Linked DNA regions of Homo sapiens. The protein of the gene in region 4 purifies or fractionates together with the protein of the main gene of each other region. This does not show direct contact. Each region holds a gene or a part of one and is shown on either strand. Other genes may lie near its edges. The genes, in order: SERPINB4, CD207, EVPL and SUSD3.

Region 1 (5,202 bases), on a different chromosome or scaffold from region 4:
CCCTAAGAAAAGCTACTTTCTGGAAAATAAAAATGATCAATTCCTGATCTTTACACATGCTGATATACTTCAAGGTCAATTCTAGATTCTTCTTTCTTCTAACTTTATCCTTTCTCCCTAGTATCTTATTTTTGCTTTTAGCTACAACTACCATATTTATCCCAATGACTCTAAAGTATTTATATTGAATATCACAAATTTAGAGCTTCAGATCATATTCTGTTTCTGAGATTTAGACTAATATCTTCAAGTGCCTGCCAGGCAAATCCATTTGAATATTAAAAGTACCTTAATTCATCAAGTACAAATTTAAACCCAAAGTCTTTTTTTCTCTCAGAAACAAGATATTCTTCCATCCATCCAGTCAGATAGGTCAGCAACTTAGATGTCTTTCTGTAACTATTATTTCCTAAATAATTCCCCCAGGCTCTTTCTTTCTCTCCATTTCCACTCCCAATACTCTAATGATTTCCTAATTTATATATGGTAACCACACTGTTCTTTCCTCGCATCCATTGATATCAGCGTAGCCAGAGATGTATTTTCTAGATGTGGATATGATAATTTTATGCCCCTCTTTGACAAACAACCATCAAAGCCTGTAATGAGTTTCTTATCCCTTTAGCATAAAATAGGAAGTTCCTATGTGGTTTACAAGGCTCCTCCTGTTCTGGGATATGCCTTCTACTCCAGGCTCATCATGAACTACTCTGTTTTTAATTTTCCTTTATATATGATTAATATATCTCTAAATTATCTTTCCTATGTGTAACTGGACACTTGCCCTTTCCAGAGAGAAAACAGGTAAAGCAAAAATGATTTTATGTCATTATTTTATTGATGATGTGTTTTATAGAATCACAAAATTTAGAAACATAAGAAGGATTTAGGTATCACCTAAATTCAAAGAAATGTGTGTTTCTAGGTTGCTAAATTTGAAGAGAAAGTATGATTTGGTTTGGTTCATTTAAAACAGGTCAGAAACAGAATTATATTTCAAATTTAGAAGACACGGTATTAAATGATTCATCTTATCTTGGACATTTTTCCTCAAGGGAAATTTTTCTGGAAGGAAAAGTACATTTATATGTGGGCTTATTAAGAGAAAGAGAGAAAGGCATGCTATTTTAATCATTAAATTCTTGATGATGACTATCATCATCAAGATGAGATAGAAAAGAAATATGAGCCAAGAGAATCTGTTGTTGCCAGCAATCAGTTTACCAGAACACCTCTAGGTGAACATTTTCTAAATGGAGTGACAGACTAATTGCATCTATGGGGATGAGAATCTGCCATAGAAGAGGATGCTGTTGGTCTTATTTTGCCTTATGAAGAATAGGAAAGGGTGATTACAACAGAACTCTTCATTAGTTGAAGGAGATGATAATTCGACTACTACTACAGCGGTGGCAGCTGCAGCTTCCACTCCCTCCTCAGTGACCTCCACAAAGGCCTTGTGTAGGACTTTAGATACTGAGAGACCGTGGCTCCAGGTCATGCCTGAGAGGTCTGCATCCCCATTGAAGATATTCACCATTCCCATGGTTCTCAACGTGTCCTTGAGGTCATAGCTCTCTTCCATTTTGAACCGAGGTAAGTGTAAATCGACACATGTCTCTCTCATATTCTGCAAACTTGTCCATTCCATCAATTTCTCAGCAGTGAGTTTCTCTTCAAGCTATACAAATGGAAAAAAGAAACTGATATGACTAACTGTCGATCTCTAATACACCTTAACAATGAATTGACTATGTGGAGATTCGTTATTTTGGCAATAAATGTGAAATACAGAAGGTTCACTTTAATAGACATTATTATTCTAATAGGTAAAATATGAGTCCTGAATATATAAATACATTGGGTTATATGTGTATATGTATATACATGTATGTAAAAACAGAATCATGTTTTTACGTATATGTATATGTGTACATATGTATGTATACAACTGTATGATACACATGTAAAATATGATTACATTATTTTGTACACAATGAACTGTATGTATCACTATTTCTTGTGCCAACAGCCTACTACATGTGTCAATTTTTAATAGGCTCATCATATTTTTCTGTATACATTATTTAGTACACATTGCAATTATTAAATTGTAATTCCCTAAATTCCTAAATTTGTATTCCCTTTTCTACTCGGCCTATTTGTAAACTTTCCTCACATTGGTATATATTTCTCCCAGTCAAGTTTAAATTGCTGCATAATAATATCATCAAATTGATATCCAATGCATGTAACTCTAATAAATTAATCATTAACTAAGCCATAGATGGAATTAAATCATAGATGGGAATTGAACAATGAGAACACTTGGACACAGGAAGGTAACATCACACTCTGAGGACTGTTGTGGGGTGGGGGGAGGGGGGAGGGATAGCATTAGGAGATATACCTAACGCTAAATGACGAGTTAATGGGTGCAGCACACCAGCATGGCACATGTATACATATGTAACTAACCTGCACATTGTGCACATGTACCCTAAAGCTTAAAGTATTATAATAATAATAATAAAAACAAACAAACAAACAAAAACTAAGCTTTCAGTTTGTGTCAGGCCCTATGCTCAAATATTTGTAATATGAAGGTGAGTCATCATTCCTCATTTAGAATTTTTCATCATTTTGAGGCAACTCGGTCATAAGCTTTTACCTTGTTTAAACTTGGTATCTTTGGAAAAATGTCCGGCAGTAGAAGGAAGAGTTGTAGATGCAAGTTCTTACCTTCTGCAGACCATCGATTTCATTTGGCAGCAGCACAATCATGCTTAGATCTTTGCCTTTGTATGGTATTTCCAGGACCTTGGCCTGTACATCCTCCAGCAAGGCAAAATTAAAGGAATTGTATTGCCTCATCATCTGTACAGATTTGTATGTATTCTGCAATAAATCAATGTGTCCAACAAATAACACGTGAAACACAAGACAAAAAAGATAATATTATTGAGATAGCAACACATCCTTCTTCTTCTAAGAAATAACCCAGGAATTCCATGAGTTAGAAACAATAGTTTTTCAGGTATTCCTAACTAAATAAAGTTATAAGAGTAAAACAACAAAATAACAGACATGAACAATTTTTATTTTTTACTTATCATGTTACATTCCATCAGAAATGTTTAACATTCCATGTATTAACATATTACACTATATAAATAAAATATAGACAATACCTTGTTTGGCCAAAATTTTTCCTCTTTAGTGTTTTCTTTTTTAAATTTATTCTCCCACTGCCCTTTGAAATAGATTGCGTTCACAAGAACCAGTGTCGTATCATTGCCAATAGTCCCATCAGGAAATAGGTTTTTAATTTTTTCTGCAAGGGAAAGAATAAAAGAGTCTTTTACACAAGCTACAAATGGCTTGTCTGGAAGATGCTTTGCAAATGTTCGTGACTGATCGTTAATTATTGACCCAAATCCCTGCTTGAGACTCACTGACTTTGATCTTTGAATTGTTAGACTCACTGACCAGTGGTTCACCAGATGCAGCTTTCTTCAAGGCTCCAGTCGTATAAAGTTACCCTTGATGGAGACATCACTTCTTGTGATAGAGAAGGAGTTCACGTTCTCTGTGTATGAATGTCTCCAATCATCTGATTTGGAATACTGATAAACTGATTTTGTCTACTCTTCCAACATGTGTCTTTCCTTTCTCCCTCCCTCCTCTTCCTACTTTTATTTTTTTTTAACTACGGGGTCCCCATTCAGAGGAAGGAGGCCCTGATTGCATTTTAGGATGAGTGACTTGAGCTCTGTAATATGAAACGCATGTCCTGTGCTGTCAGACACTACTTCCGGGGGTATCTTCCTATTCACTCTCATGTTGAGTTGCTGTAAGTTTGGCCTGTAATGAGAGGTGGGAGGTAAGAAAGATGTCTGTAGAATGGAGACTTTGTCAAGCTCTTTGCCCTTGATGGGGAAGAGAGCTGTGATAATCCCTGCAGAACACATTGGCTACAGATGTGATCCAGGCAGCTCCAGCTCAGAGACAAAAGGGTGATTTACCAGAGAGCTGCTTGTTTCCCAATTAGTAAAGGAGACGAGAGACGCTTTCTAATGTTTTCTATTAAATATTCATCATAAAAATTTGAGTCTGATTTAAAGTAAAGGATATGATCTCAAAATAGGCCTGAGCGGAGACAGGGGATCCACAAAGCTATTGTCATGCAGGGCCATAAGCAAATAATTCTCCAGATGTGTTTCCATCTAATTGGCTTCCTGTGATTTCCTCCTTGGCTCCCCTAGGCTCTCTTCATATTCATTTGGACAAATCCTTCATCTGGAGTGCCCTCTTCAGCCCTCCCTGCAAACCCATCTCAATCCCCACACCTGTTCCCCCATGCAGTGTCAAGCACAAGGCTCACTGGCATAGGTTTCTCAAAGGTGTTTCTATAATGGGTGGCTCTCCTACCATTCGTTTGACTTTCCACCCAGGAGTTAATCTTCTTTCGACTTTCTTCTGGAGCATTTGCAAAATCAGTAGATTCCACACTGGTCTGGTAAAATTTCTTGATGGCATCTAAATATTCCTTTGAGATATGAAGGAAGAAGTAGGAATTAGGAGTAATTTATGTAACTATATATTACCAAACTTACTTATTTGTAACAACAGTAAGCTGAATCCAGACCCTGAATAGATGCAGTATCTCCTGTCCATGGATATTTTTATACAGGTGTCATGTAGGCAATGCAAAAGGGGAATGTGGGCTGGCACAAGAAAGAGGTCACTGAAGGTCAATATCATCTTGGCAAAAGGCAGAAGCAGAAGAGGCTGTGGTTTGCAAACTGCAGAGCAGGCTTCCCTGAAGGAGATTCATTGCTTCTCAGACTTCTCTCCAGTAATTTTAACCATGATGTTTCTGATCTTTGTTTTTGTCTTTCATCCTGTGCATTCAATATTTCCTGGTACTTCCTCAACTATTCTCAGGAACTCACCCAAGCCTGCCCATTCCAATAATATCCCATTAGTCATACATTTCCCACCAAGATGTATCGTATGTGACTGAGTCAGTGCCAGTTTATCGATGGTATCTTATTACTTATTACTCTTACTCACTCTATTACACAACCTCCTCTTTTATCACAAGATTATCCCTAAATCCACACTTCAGTGATGTATCGTTGGGGTCTGGGACACTCCAGTGGGGGAGAGTTGTGGAAATGGAGCTAATGCACTCTGAGT
Region 2 (3,810 bases), on a different chromosome or scaffold from region 4:
TGTGACCCATTTGCACCCAGAACAACACACTGCTGGTTACAGTTATTTAAGGAAGCATCTTTTCCTGAGGACCTTAATGAAGACCTGTGCTCACTCCACCCTCCTCTCCTCTCTGTGGTGGCTGCTGCCTGGATTCCAGCTTCAGCCACTGGACTTGGGATTTGGAACTGATGCCTGTGGAACTGGGTCTCTGTGAAGAGTGGGGAACCTGCTGAGACTTGTTCTTGGGAATTGAGCTATAGACTAGAAGATTGTGCAGTAAACAAGAAGAAAGATCACCAAGATCGTGACATTGGAGACCTTGCTCTACTTTAATAAAAACTAGAGATAAGTACTGGTCACATTTTGTGGCATTTCCAGGACTGGAACTTCCCCAGTCCTTGTTATTTTTGACTCCCCAGATGTTTCCTGAGGATACCCTAGAACTTCATGTCCACCAGAGGAGACTGCCTTTCCCACATATTCACCTGGACAACCAGAAATGAAAAAGTGCACTTGGAGTGAGTCCTTGACCCAGGCAGCATTTTATTCTGAGGAAGCTGGAAGGTGAATTCATGAAGGCACTGAAGGCTGCTTCCCATGCACAAGACACAGGAAGATAGGAAATGCAGAAGGAGGAGGAGGTGCCGGAGAGGTGAGGACAGGGGCTGGATGGACGCTGGGTGGAAGGCAGGGCTCGGCACTCCAGTGTACTAAGGGAGTGGAAGGAGAAGGGAGGCTGGGTGCCAGCCGAGCTCTGAAGGAGATACAAGTCCGTGTCAGCCACTGACTTGAACCAGAGAAGAACGGGTTCAGGCTTTAGATGATGTGGATGAAGAAACCACTGGGGACATACCATGAGCAGGATTTCCAAGAACAGAGCTATTTGCACTGCAAACACAGCCAGCTGCTAGCTGCCAGCACAGCTAAGCAGAGACATGGAAATTCTAGGGGGTTTGGCCAAGAAAAGCCCTGGATGACAATATCAGGAGAATTGCTTGGTTGCTCTGGAGTAACTTTGATGTGATGAAGCTGAGGTTTCTCTGAAAGAGTGGAAAACCCCAGGGTGTTATGCCGGATTACGGGTCTTGATCCTCCTTAGCAGGGCAATTGGAACTTCTAAATCCTCTCTACCCACCCCTCCCACTTTAACCTGAATTCTCCTTTCCATTCCAGCTGCCTCCAAGACGTCAGAGAATTTCCAGCCAAGACAGACGGACTCCAGAATGCCACTGTGGGACAATTTTGAAGCAAGAAAAATTAACGTGCAAAGTCATCCTGGAGTCTGGGGAAGAAAGAGGCATTTCCTCATGTTTAACAAGCGTTGGAGCTCAAAGAGTGAGCTTGGGAGCCTGTCCTGTCACGGTTCTGATGGGACATAGGGTCGCTTACAAATGAAAAGAAACGTTTTGTCACATGGGGCATCATTCCAGGCCTGAAGTGAGGGAGCCTTTATATTGCCACAGTGTTCATTGTTCCCAGCATTGTTGGGCTCACCTGGAATCCAGAACCTACCAAGAGCGGGGAAAAAGATGGATTTACAAAGTGGAAAATCAAAAAGAACTTATTTCCAGTGAAGAAATGAGTTAACTCAACCCAAGCTTTTGTCCTAGGGAATGGCATAGCAAATGTCTGCACCCAAGCCTCAGAGGAAGGGGACTGGTGAGACTTCGACCTCTAAGCTTTCACATGCCCCAAGTCCAGGCCAAACCAACCCACCACTTTCAAGTCCCTACACAAACCCACACTGTGAAGACCTAGACTCATGACAAGATCCCTGAAGCTGGCCAGGTAGAAGGCCTTGTTGCCAAACCCCAGAGGGCGTGGAGGGCTCAGGTCCACAGCCAGTTGGTGACAGGGTTGTGCTCGATCTTGGTTGCAATGTTCCTGTCACTCTAAGACAGGGAAGAATCAGAAACCCTGTCTCATGGGGAACATCGCCCCCACTCCCTTCATGCCCTGGCCATGGCCGGGGAAAGTCAGGCTGGCACGGAGGGCTCCAGGGGCTTACCTCACACTTTGGACCTTGTTGAATGGCGTGTCATCCACCCAGGACCAGTCCCCTTCCATCCCTGCTTTAGTCAGGCCAATCCAGTAGATGAGTCCCCCCGCTGTTTTATACAGAAACTCCTGTAGGAAAGACAGGATAAGCAGAGGTGCGGCCACACTTGGAGCTTGATCATCTGTCTCTGGGTGTTCTTCACCTGCGCTCAGTGACAGCCCTGACCCACAGATGCGCTGCACAAACTGGCCTCTCAAGCTTCTTCCTGCCCTTGCCCAGAGCCCAGATTTCATCTTCCAGATTATGATGTGTCCCTGCTCTGCAGCTAACAAGCTCAGGACTCAAGCCTTTCTGCCACTCAGGAAGCAGGTGCTGAAGCACAGGAAGGCCTCAGCTGAACTCCAGAGCACGGACCGCAAGAGAATGGTTCATATGATAATACCTGAATTAAATGAGCCCTGAATCCACATACGGCACTGTGCTGAGTCGTCCATATGCATTCTCTCCTTTCCTCTGAGGCAGGTGCCATCACCATGCATGTTTCATCAAGTGAGGGCCAGTGAAGTTTGCCCAGTGAAGTTGGGTATTCCACCCAAGCTGCTAGGACTAGTTAGATGGCAAGGTTCAGGCTCTAGAACTACGCCAGAGCCCAGGCTCTGACCTGCTCTGCTATCCCACCTCCCAGATGAAAAGGGCCTGCCCAATTTCTGCCTCACCAGGCAGGAGACTTCTTGAGTCATGTGGAATCATTAAGGCTGTTCACAAATATTTCTTTTTTTCTGGGCACATGGAAAGTAGATCCTCTCTGCCCTGTTCCAGGAGTACTGGAATCCAGGATCCTCCCAATCCAGGAGTACTGCATAACTTACTTAACTTAATTAACATAACTTAAGCTAGTGAAATGTAAGCAAAAATGAGGTATGTTAAATCTGGGCAGAAGCTTTGCACAATATGTCAAGTTCCCCTTTCCTGCCCCAGCAATTGTGGAGACATATTAAGATGAAGACTCCTTGGGCCTGGGTCCTTGAGTAGCCACAGTGAGCACAGCCCCCTTGCCGGCCCTTATTCGACATGCTACTGAGAACCAATCCTTCTTCATTAGGTCATCAATATTTGGGGATTTTTGTTCACGCAGTATAATCTTGCCCATCCTCCCTGGCCCAGTGCTCATACGCCCCCTTCACAGAGCCCATAGGCACAGCACTCACCTGCTCACTCTCTGAGGTCACCGAGGTCAGGTGTGAATTCCTGGACACACAGAACTGCTCGGCACTATACCAGGTCTTTGGAATGAGAGAAAAGTAATAGAAGTTCCCCTTGAAGTACTTCCAGCCTTGAGAAACCACCTGTAGAATATCATCTAGAGAACAAGAGGTAAAAGTGAACGCTGGTATTCTTGATTTCTTGGGATGCTGGCTTGGTGGGGGCACTTGAATGAGGTCTCAGAGACAGCAGCAAATGGAGCTGTGCGCTGGTGTCCTTGGGTCCTTGTATAGGAGATTAGGGACACTCTTTCAAATCCTGAAAGTCAGACAGAGACTAATAGAGTCTCTGGGACTGGAGAGGTTATAATGCAAGAGGTTGGACAAAGAGTGTCTTCCCCATGATGAGGAAGCAACCCTCCATCGGCCATGACAAGTGGCTGAGCCCCTGGACTCTAGAAAGGAACTTGATGGGAAATGACTAGGTGTGGGCCAGGGTGGACATCCCCTAATGCTTTTACATTCTGCACTTTTGTGTGGGAGCTCTAGCTGGACCCTGGTCTCTTTTCTCCTAACAGCCCCTAAGTCCTCCCCAACCTCAAGCCCTCTCTCCTTAACTTCCTAGCC
Region 3 (4,666 bases), on a different chromosome or scaffold from region 4:
CACCTGGCCCTTACTTGCACTTTCTAATGCAAACCAGGCCTGCGCACTGCCTTGGGTCCTAAAATCATTGCATTGACTGGGTCTTCTCAAAATCCTATATCCAAGCATCTTAGGTCTTCAGCTCCACCTCTGAGGACCCACTGGGGAGTCTCAGGAAACAGGGAGGGGTCTTTCATCTCAGGAAAAACATGGAGCTCCTATCTCTACCGCCCACCCCGTGCTCTACCCTTCTTCCTCTCTGCAGAAGGAGCTCAGTGAGGACATCCGAAGGACCCATGATGCAAAGCAGGGCTCCGAGAGCCCTGCCCAAGCAGGGAGAGAGTCAGAGGCCCTGAAGGCCCAGCTGGAAGAGGAGAGGAAGCGGGTGGCCCGGGTGCAGCATGAGCTGGAGGCGCAGAGGAGCCAACTGCTGCAGCTGAGGACCCAGCGGCCCTTGGAGAGGCTGGAGGAGAAGGAAGTGGTAGAGTTCTACCGGGACCCCCAGCTGGAGGGCAGCCTGTCCAGGGTGAAGGCCCAGGTGGAGGAGGAGGGCAAGCGGCGGGCTGGCCTGCAGGCAGACCTGGAAGTGGCAGCCCAGAAGGTCGTGCAGCTGGAAAGCAAGAGGAAGACCATGCAGCCTCATCTGCTGACCAAGGAGGTCACCCAGGTGGAGAGGGACCCCGGCCTGGACAGCCAGGCGGCCCAGCTCAGGATCCAGATCCAGCAGCTCCGCGGGGAGGATGCCGTCATCTCGGCCCGGCTGGAAGGGCTGAAGAAGGAGCTACTGGCCCTTGAGAAGAGGGAGGTGGACGTGAAGGAGAAGGTCGTGGTGAAAGAGGTAGTCAAGGTGGAGAAGAATCTGGAAATGGTCAAGGCAGCCCAGGCTCTGAGGCTGCAGATGGAGGAGGATGCTGCGCGGAGGAAGCAGGCGGAGGAGGCTGTGGCCAAGCTACAGGCTCGCATCGAAGACCTGGAGCGGGCTATCAGCTCGGTGGAGCCCAAGGTCATCGTGAAGGAGGTGAAGAAGGTGGAGCAGGACCCAGGGCTCCTCCAGGAGTCCTCCAGGCTGAGGAGCCTCCTCGAGGAGGAGAGGACCAAGAACGCGACGCTGGCCAGGGAGCTGAGCGACCTGCACAGCAAGTACAGCGTGGTGGAGAAGCAGAGGCCCAAAGTGCAGCTCCAGGAGCGCGTCCACGAGATCTTCCAGGTGGATCCGGAGACAGAGCAGGAGATCACTCGGCTCAAGGCCAAGCTGCAGGAGATGGCGGGCAAGAGGAGCGGTGTGGAGAAGGAGGTGGAGAAGCTGCTGCCCGACCTGGAGGTCCTGCGGGCCCAGAAGCCCACGGTGGAGTACAAGGAGGTGACCCAGGAGGTGGTGAGGCATGAGAGGAGCCCCGAGGTGCTGCGTGAGATCGACCGCCTGAAGGCTCAGCTCAACGAGCTCGTCAACAGCCACGGGCGCTCCCAGGAGCAGCTCATCCGCCTGCAGGGTGAGCGCGACGAGTGGAGGCGCGAGCGGGCCAAGGTGGAGACCAAGACGGTGAGCAAGGAGGTGGTGCGCCACGAGAAGGACCCGGTGCTGGAGAAAGAAGCAGAGCGGCTCCGCCAGGAGGTGCGGGAGGCGGCCCAGAAGAGGCGGGCCGCGGAGGACGCGGTGTACGAGCTGCAGAGCAAGCGCCTGCTGCTGGAGAGGAGGAAGCCCGAGGAGAAGGTGGTGGTGCAGGAGGTGGTGGTCACCCAGAAGGACCCGAAGCTGCGCGAGGAGCACAGCCGGCTGAGCGGGAGCCTGGATGAGGAGGTGGGCCGGCGGCGCCAGCTAGAGCTTGAGGTGCAGCAGCTGCGGGCCGGCGTGGAGGAGCAGGAGGGCCTGCTCAGCTTCCAGGAGGACCGCAGCAAGAAGCTGGCCGTGGAGAGGGAGCTGCGGCAGCTGACCTTGAGGATCCAGGAGCTCGAGAAGCGGCCTCCCACGGTGCAGGAGAAGATCATCATGGAGGAAGTGGTCAAGCTGGAGAAGGACCCGGACCTGGAGAAGTCCACGGAAGCCCTGCGGTGGGACCTGGACCAGGAGAAGACCCAGGTAACCGAGCTGAATCGGGAGTGCAAGAACCTGCAGGTCCAGATTGACGTCCTCCAGAAAGCCAAATCGCAGGAGAAGACCATCTACAAGGAAGTGATCCGGGTGCAGAAGGACCGCGTCCTGGAAGATGAGCGGGCCCGCGTGTGGGAGATGCTCAACAGGGAGCGCACGGCCCGGCAGGCCCGGGAGGAGGAGGCACGGCGCCTGCGGGAGCGCATTGACCGGGCCGAGACGCTGGGGAGAACCTGGTCCCGGGAGGAGTCCGAGCTGCAGAGGGCCCGGGACCAGGCCGACCAGGAGTGTGGGCGGCTGCAGCAGGAGCTGCGGGCTCTGGAGAGGCAGAAGCAGCAGCAGACACTGCAGCTGCAGGAGGAGTCGAAGCTGCTCAGCCAGAAGACGGAGAGCGAGCGACAGAAGGCGGCCCAGCGGGGCCAGGAGCTCTCGCGGCTGGAGGCGGCCATCCTCCGCGAGAAGGACCAGATCTACGAGAAGGAGCGGACGCTCCGGGACCTCCACGCCAAGGTGAGCCGGGAGGAGCTCAGCCAGGAGACCCAGACGCGAGAGACCAACCTTTCCACCAAGATCTCCATCCTGGAACCCGAGACGGGGAAGGACATGTCCCCATACGAGGCCTACAAGAGGGGCATCATCGACAGGGGCCAGTACTTGCAGCTGCAGGAGCTCGAGTGTGACTGGGAGGAGGTCACCACCTCGGGGCCCTGTGGGGAGGAGTCTGTGCTCCTGGACCGCAAGAGCGGGAAGCAGTACTCCATCGAGGCCGCCCTCCGCTGCCGGCGCATCTCTAAGGAGGAGTACCATCTGTACAAGGACGGCCACCTGCCCATCTCCGAGTTTGCGCTGCTTGTAGCTGGGGAGACCAAGCCAAGCTCCTCACTCTCCATCGGCTCTATCATCTCCAAGTCCCCGCTCGCCTCCCCGGCCCCCCAGAGCACCAGTTTCTTCTCTCCCAGCTTCTCTCTCGGGCTCGGTGATGACAGCTTCCCTATCGCCGGGATCTATGACACAACCACAGACAACAAGTGCAGCATCAAGACGGCCGTGGCCAAGAACATGCTGGACCCCATCACTGGGCAGAAGCTACTGGAGGCCCAGGCGGCCACAGGGGGCATCGTGGACCTGCTCAGCCGTGAGCGCTACTCTGTGCACAAGGCGATGGAGAGGGGCCTGATCGAGAACACCTCCACACAGAGGCTGCTTAACGCCCAGAAGGCCTTCACCGGCATCGAGGACCCCGTCACCAAGAAGAGGCTCTCGGTGGGCGAGGCCGTCCAGAAGGGCTGGATGCCCCGGGAGAGCGTGCTCCCACACCTGCAGGTGCAGCACCTGACCGGGGGGCTCATCGACCCCAAGAGGACAGGCCGCATCCCCATCCAGCAGGCCCTCCTCTCCGGGATGATCAGTGAAGAGCTGGCCCAGCTCCTGCAGGACGAGTCCAGCTACGAGAAGGATTTGACAGACCCCATCTCCAAGGAACGGCTGAGCTACAAGGAGGCCATGGGCCGCTGCCGCAAAGACCCCCTGAGCGGCCTGCTGCTCCTGCCAGCGGCACTGGAGGGGTACCGCTGCTACCGCTCCGCCTCCCCCACCGTCCCGCGCTCCCTTCGCTGACACGGGCCAAGGAGCCAGTGGGGAAGTGCGTGTGTTGGGCCAGGTAGGATACGTACACCTCTTGCCTCAGAGCAGCCTCATCCCAGGCAGTGGGTCTTCCCTCTGTCCAACCACTGTTTTATTATTTTACTAACATGGTGATGGGCTCCCTCCCCTAACCTTGGTGCCTGATCCATCCCCAGACCAGGACAGCAGCCACTCAGTTCTTCCTCCACCTCCACCCAGTGATCCCAATAAACGAATTCTGTCTCCCCGTGCCATGTGGTGTCCCATTCATTCACATTTGAGAGTGCAGGACCCATGTGTCTGGGGGATGAGTGCAAGGACAGCGTTGCTCAAGTCCTTGCCTGGGCGGACGTGCTCAATTTGCCTGCCTGGGAAACAGGCATCCTCGGAGGGCTGTGCCTCCTTGAGTGCGGGGCAGGGATGCAGTGGCAGGTCATGGAAAGAGATTATGGTTTAAAATCACTAAAGGAGGCCGGGCACAGTGGCTCACACCTGTAATACCAGCATTTAGGGGGGCCAAGGCGGGTGGATCCGAGGTCAGGAGTTCGAGACCAGCCTGACGAACACGGTGAAACCCCGACTCTACTAAAAATACAAAAATTAGCTGGGTGTGGTGGTGCACACCTAAAATTCCCGCTACTCAGGAGGCTGAGGCAGGAGAATCACTTGAACCTGGGAGGCGGACGTTCCAGTGAGCAGAGATCATGCCACTGCACTCTACCCTGGGCAACAGGGTAGACCTGAGACAGCGAGACTCCATCTCAAAAAAAAAAAAAAAAATGGGGGCTTGGTGGCATATGCCTGTAATCCCAGCTACTCGGGAGACTGAGGCAGGAGAACTGCTTGAACCCATGAGGCAGAGGTTGCAGTGAGCTGAGATTATGTCACTGCACTCTAGCCTGGGTGACAGAGTGAGACTCTGTCTCAAAAAAAAAAAAAAAAAAAAAAAAAAATCATGGACTAGCCCCTGTCTCC
Region 4 (3,637 bases):
ATAAAATCTTAAGCCCCACTGACTGACTGAATGGACCTGTCTTGGCCAAGGAGAACTGCCCATGACTAAGACAGGTCAGTCATGCCTCAGTACACTCCTTCCTTGCTAACCAATACCAGATTTTTTTCTTCAGAGTTAAACAGAAACTAGCTCTGAAAACAAACAAACAAACAAACAAAAAAAGGGAAGTCTCCTCTGCTGACTCTAACATCAACCAACCACTGTTACCTTTGTATTTTTCAGTATTAGAAATAATTATTTAGCTGGGCACGGTGGCTCACGCCTGTAATCCCTGCACTTTGGGAGGCCGAAGCAGGTGGATCACAAGGTCAGGAGATCGAGACATCCTGGCTAACACGGTGAAACCCCATCTCTACTAAAAATACAAAAAATTAGGTGGGCGTGGTGGTGGGCACCTGTAGTCCCAGCTACTCAGGAGGCTGAGGCAGGAGAATCGCTTGAACCTGGAAGCGGAGCTTGCAGTGAGCAGAGATTGCACCACTGCACTCCAACCTGGGCGACAGAGTGAGACTCTGTCTCAAAAAAAAAAGAAATAATTATTTAGTTTTACTTCATACCCCTCAACTGCACTTTTACAGACAACAGATGCAGAACCCTCCATGGGTCCTTGCTTGGAAGCAGTACATCCTGTGGAGGAAGATGCTGAGGTAGTTTTCTGTAGTTGCTGAAAAGAAGTTTATTGCTATTTTCTTATTTTATTATACAAAACTAGATTTGCTTAAAACATTTCCCAGTCTCTTTAAAGGAATGCTAGTTAGTGGGAGGCCACAGCTAGTAAATTACCCTCAGTAGTGGTTTCAAGTAGTCCATAACTATAAAAATCGTTACGGCCAGGATATGCCGGAACAGAACACTCCCCACTGGGGTCCTCAGCCTTGGATGTCAGCTCGGCCCCTCAAGGGGTCCCTACACCTGGAAGCTGATTCCACTCATCAGTCTCGAGCTGGGCGCATGTGGAGTTGATGTGGAGTTGTAGCTGACTGGCTGGTGGGGTCAGCCTGGCCTCCCAGTGTGGAGCATGGGCACCAGCCTCACTGCGTGGTCACCCTAGGGCATATGCTGCGGGCTGTTGTGGCATTCCTGTGGCCAGCCCAGAGGCAGGCAGGGGCTGTCTGGGGTTTGCCATGTGCACCATCACCTGGGCTTGGGGTGAGCTGGAGGAGCCACTGAGGCTTAGAGCTCTGGGGATCCCAGGGTCCTTGTCCACGCTGCGGGTCACACTGGCCAGCTTGCTGGTGCTCTCACCATGGTCTCTGTGGAGAGAGGAGGCATGAGTTGGCAAAAGAGTGTGGATAGGGTTTAATCCCCAACTCCATACCTTCCCAGGTACCCAGGCCCTCCAGTGGGCCTGGGGCAACTGCTGCCCTGAGCACTGGGGAGCCCGTTTCCTCCTGCTGGGAGCTGCCCTGCACCCTAAGGTGCACAGAGGTCACTCCATCTCCCTGCCGGGCCCTGTTGGCAAGTGGGTCCTTCATCTACACAACCAGGGCGTGGCCCAGGAGTCAGACACTTGCCCCCCTAAGGTGTGGGAAGGGACTTCCTGGGGCTCATTCAGAGTGTGCAGAAACCACCAGGAACCCAGCTGTCTGGCCAGGGCCTGGGATGTCCCAGGCAGAGAAGGGATGCTGGGGAGCAGGAGGTCAAGGGGAGGACATCTTCCCTCCTGCCAGGCCTGCCTCTTTGGTAGCCAGGAGCTGGATCACCCACCTGCTCCACCCTCAGTACTCTTGTGGCTCTCTACTCCCCCAGATACAAACCAAGCCATTCCCCAGGCTGACCAGACCCTGGCCCTGTCCCATCTCCAGCCTCCACACACACACTGGCCTCTGCTCCATGTGGGCTGCCTGGCGGCTCCCACCTCCAGCCCTTTGCATGTCCTCTCCTCCCCTCAGAGGCTGTCTCTCTCCCCTCCCAAAGCAGGCTCTCTTAGTCCTTTCACTTCCGGCATCACCTCTTCCAGGAAGCCTTCCTGGATCACGGCTCCCACCCACAACTAATTCTCAGAAAAACTCTAGTAAGTAGTAGGAATTAAGAAATGATCTGCTTATGCAATGAGTAAGTGAAAGCATCAATAACTGGTGGAGACGAAAGGCAGCTTCGGGGAGGCAGGAGCCAGACTGACTCCACCCAGCCTCACTTACTGGTTGTGTGGGAGTCTACACAAGTTTCTTAACCTGCCTAGTTCTTCACCTGGAAAACGGGATAAAAGTAGTACCCACCCCTAGGTGAAAAGAGTTAATATTTGGAAGAGTTCAGAACAGTGCCTGGCACATTGCAAGTGCTGAGAAGTACTTATGAAATAAAAACAAGGTCAAGAGGCAAACCTCACCTTGCTAAAGGCAATTTACCACCTATGGAGGCAGCCTGGGCCCTGCCTGAGGGGTGGGCAGCCCCAGCACAGGCATATCCCGAGGATCCTGCCTGGGAGCCCGGGGCCCAGGGCTGGGGACTCAGGGAACTCTGCCTCCATCGGCTTTGTAGCCCTGGGCAGGACCCGCCTTCTCTGAGTCCCCATGAAGCTGGGCTGAGTGCTCGAGGTCTCCATGTGTGAGAGAGCTCCGGGAAGGGGCTCTGCCCTAAGGGTCCCCCTCCCAATCCCCCTCAGCCTCACCACCACTTCCTGCCTCTTGAGCTGACTGTCAGAGTGGCCCCTAAGCCGGCCTCCTCCAGCCTCTCACGGCCCTGTCAGGGTGCCTCCCTCCCGCCCTGGCTCTCTCACTCCCCAGAGGGGGTGAACACAGCCCTGTACACAGATCTGTGGCCACTCTTGGACGGGACGCACACGTCCGACCACACACTGCACAAGTTCCCGCAGTGTAAGAGGCAGGGTCTGTGGCGCTGGGACCAGGCAGAAGTGTGGCCCCAAACAGCACCCCTGGGAGCCCCTCGGCATCATGCTCTGGCCAGCAAAGCCCCTGCGGCAGCGGCAGCAGCTGTGGCTGCCATCATCCTGGACACCATGTTGCCTTGAGAGGCAATTGTTCCTTCCCCCATTCCATGGGCACTTTCCCAGTTATGACACAGGATGATCTGGTCCCAGTGCTGTAATGGGGAGTGGGGATCACAGGTGGGGCAATGGAGGAGCTCTGAAAGTGGCTTTGGATATCTCACTACCCAAAAGGAAAGGCATTAGCCACCATGGCCCCAACAAAACTAAAATAAAAAGGAAAGGGGGTCAGGCACGGTGGCTCACGCCTGTAATCCCAGCACTTTGGGAGGCCGAGGTGGGCAGATCACGAGGTGAGGAGATCGAGACCATCCTGGCTAACACAGTGAAACCCTGTCTCTACTAAAAATACAAAAAATTAGCTGGGCATGGTGGCGGACACCTGTGGTCCCAGCTACTTGGGAGGCTGAGGCAGGAGAATGGTGTGAACCCGGGAGGCGGAGCTTGCAGTGAGCCGAGATCGCGCCACTGAACTCCAGCCTGGACGACAGAGCAAGACTCCGCCTCAAAAAAAAAAAAAAAAAAAAAAAAAGGAAAGAGGCCTAAAAAATGTACAGCCAATTGATGGGTCAGGTGCCCTCCCACAACACATGGAGCAAAACATTTGGAGGTAATTCAGCAGAGAAAACAGAAAATGACTCATGCCAGCAATGGCACTGGTGAGCCAAG

Evidence for each region.
Region 1: the proteins of SUSD3 (region 4) and SERPINB4 purify together in Homo sapiens (affinity purification with mass spectrometry; 3 studies listed by BioGRID and IntAct, with this or other methods). This does not show direct contact.
Region 2: the proteins of SUSD3 (region 4) and CD207 purify together in Homo sapiens (affinity purification with mass spectrometry; 3 studies listed by BioGRID and IntAct, with this or other methods). This does not show direct contact.
Region 3: the proteins of SUSD3 (region 4) and EVPL purify together in Homo sapiens (affinity purification with mass spectrometry; 3 studies listed by BioGRID and IntAct, with this or other methods). This does not show direct contact.

The regions. Positions count from the first base shown.
Region 1 is NC_000018.10:63,636,443-63,641,644, forward strand, and holds the end of SERPINB4 (serpin B4), read right to left. Parts: intron 4,550-5,202; coding exon 4,432-4,549; intron 3,335-4,431; coding exon 3,192-3,334; intron 2,899-3,191; coding exon 2,743-2,898; intron 1,682-2,742; coding exon 1,277-1,681; 3' UTR 817-1,276; downstream 1-816. UniProt on the Homo sapiens protein: May act as a protease inhibitor to modulate the host immune response against tumor cells.
Region 2 is NC_000002.12:70,829,711-70,833,520, forward strand, and holds the end of CD207 (C-type lectin domain family 4 member K), read right to left. Parts: intron 3,342-3,810; coding exon 3,190-3,341; intron 2,110-3,189; coding exon 1,991-2,109; intron 1,491-1,990; coding exon 1,340-1,490; 3' UTR 1,212-1,339; coding exon of another isoform or gene 1,099-1,211; 3' UTR 501-1,098; downstream 1-500. UniProt on the Homo sapiens protein: Calcium-dependent lectin displaying mannose-binding specificity. Induces the formation of Birbeck granules (BGs); is a potent regulator of membrane superimposition and zippering.
Region 3 is NC_000017.11:76,006,122-76,010,787, reverse strand, and holds the end of EVPL (envoplakin), read left to right. Parts: intron 1-244; coding exon 245-3,685; 3' UTR 3,686-3,943; downstream 3,944-4,666. UniProt on the Homo sapiens protein: Component of the cornified envelope of keratinocytes. May link the cornified envelope to desmosomes and intermediate filaments.
Region 4 is NC_000009.12:93,082,174-93,085,810, reverse strand, and holds the end of SUSD3 (sushi domain-containing protein 3), read right to left. Parts: intron 1,275-3,637; coding exon 1,064-1,274; 3' UTR 678-1,063; downstream 1-677. UniProt on the Homo sapiens protein: May play a role in breast tumorigenesis by promoting estrogen-dependent cell proliferation, cell-cell interactions and migration.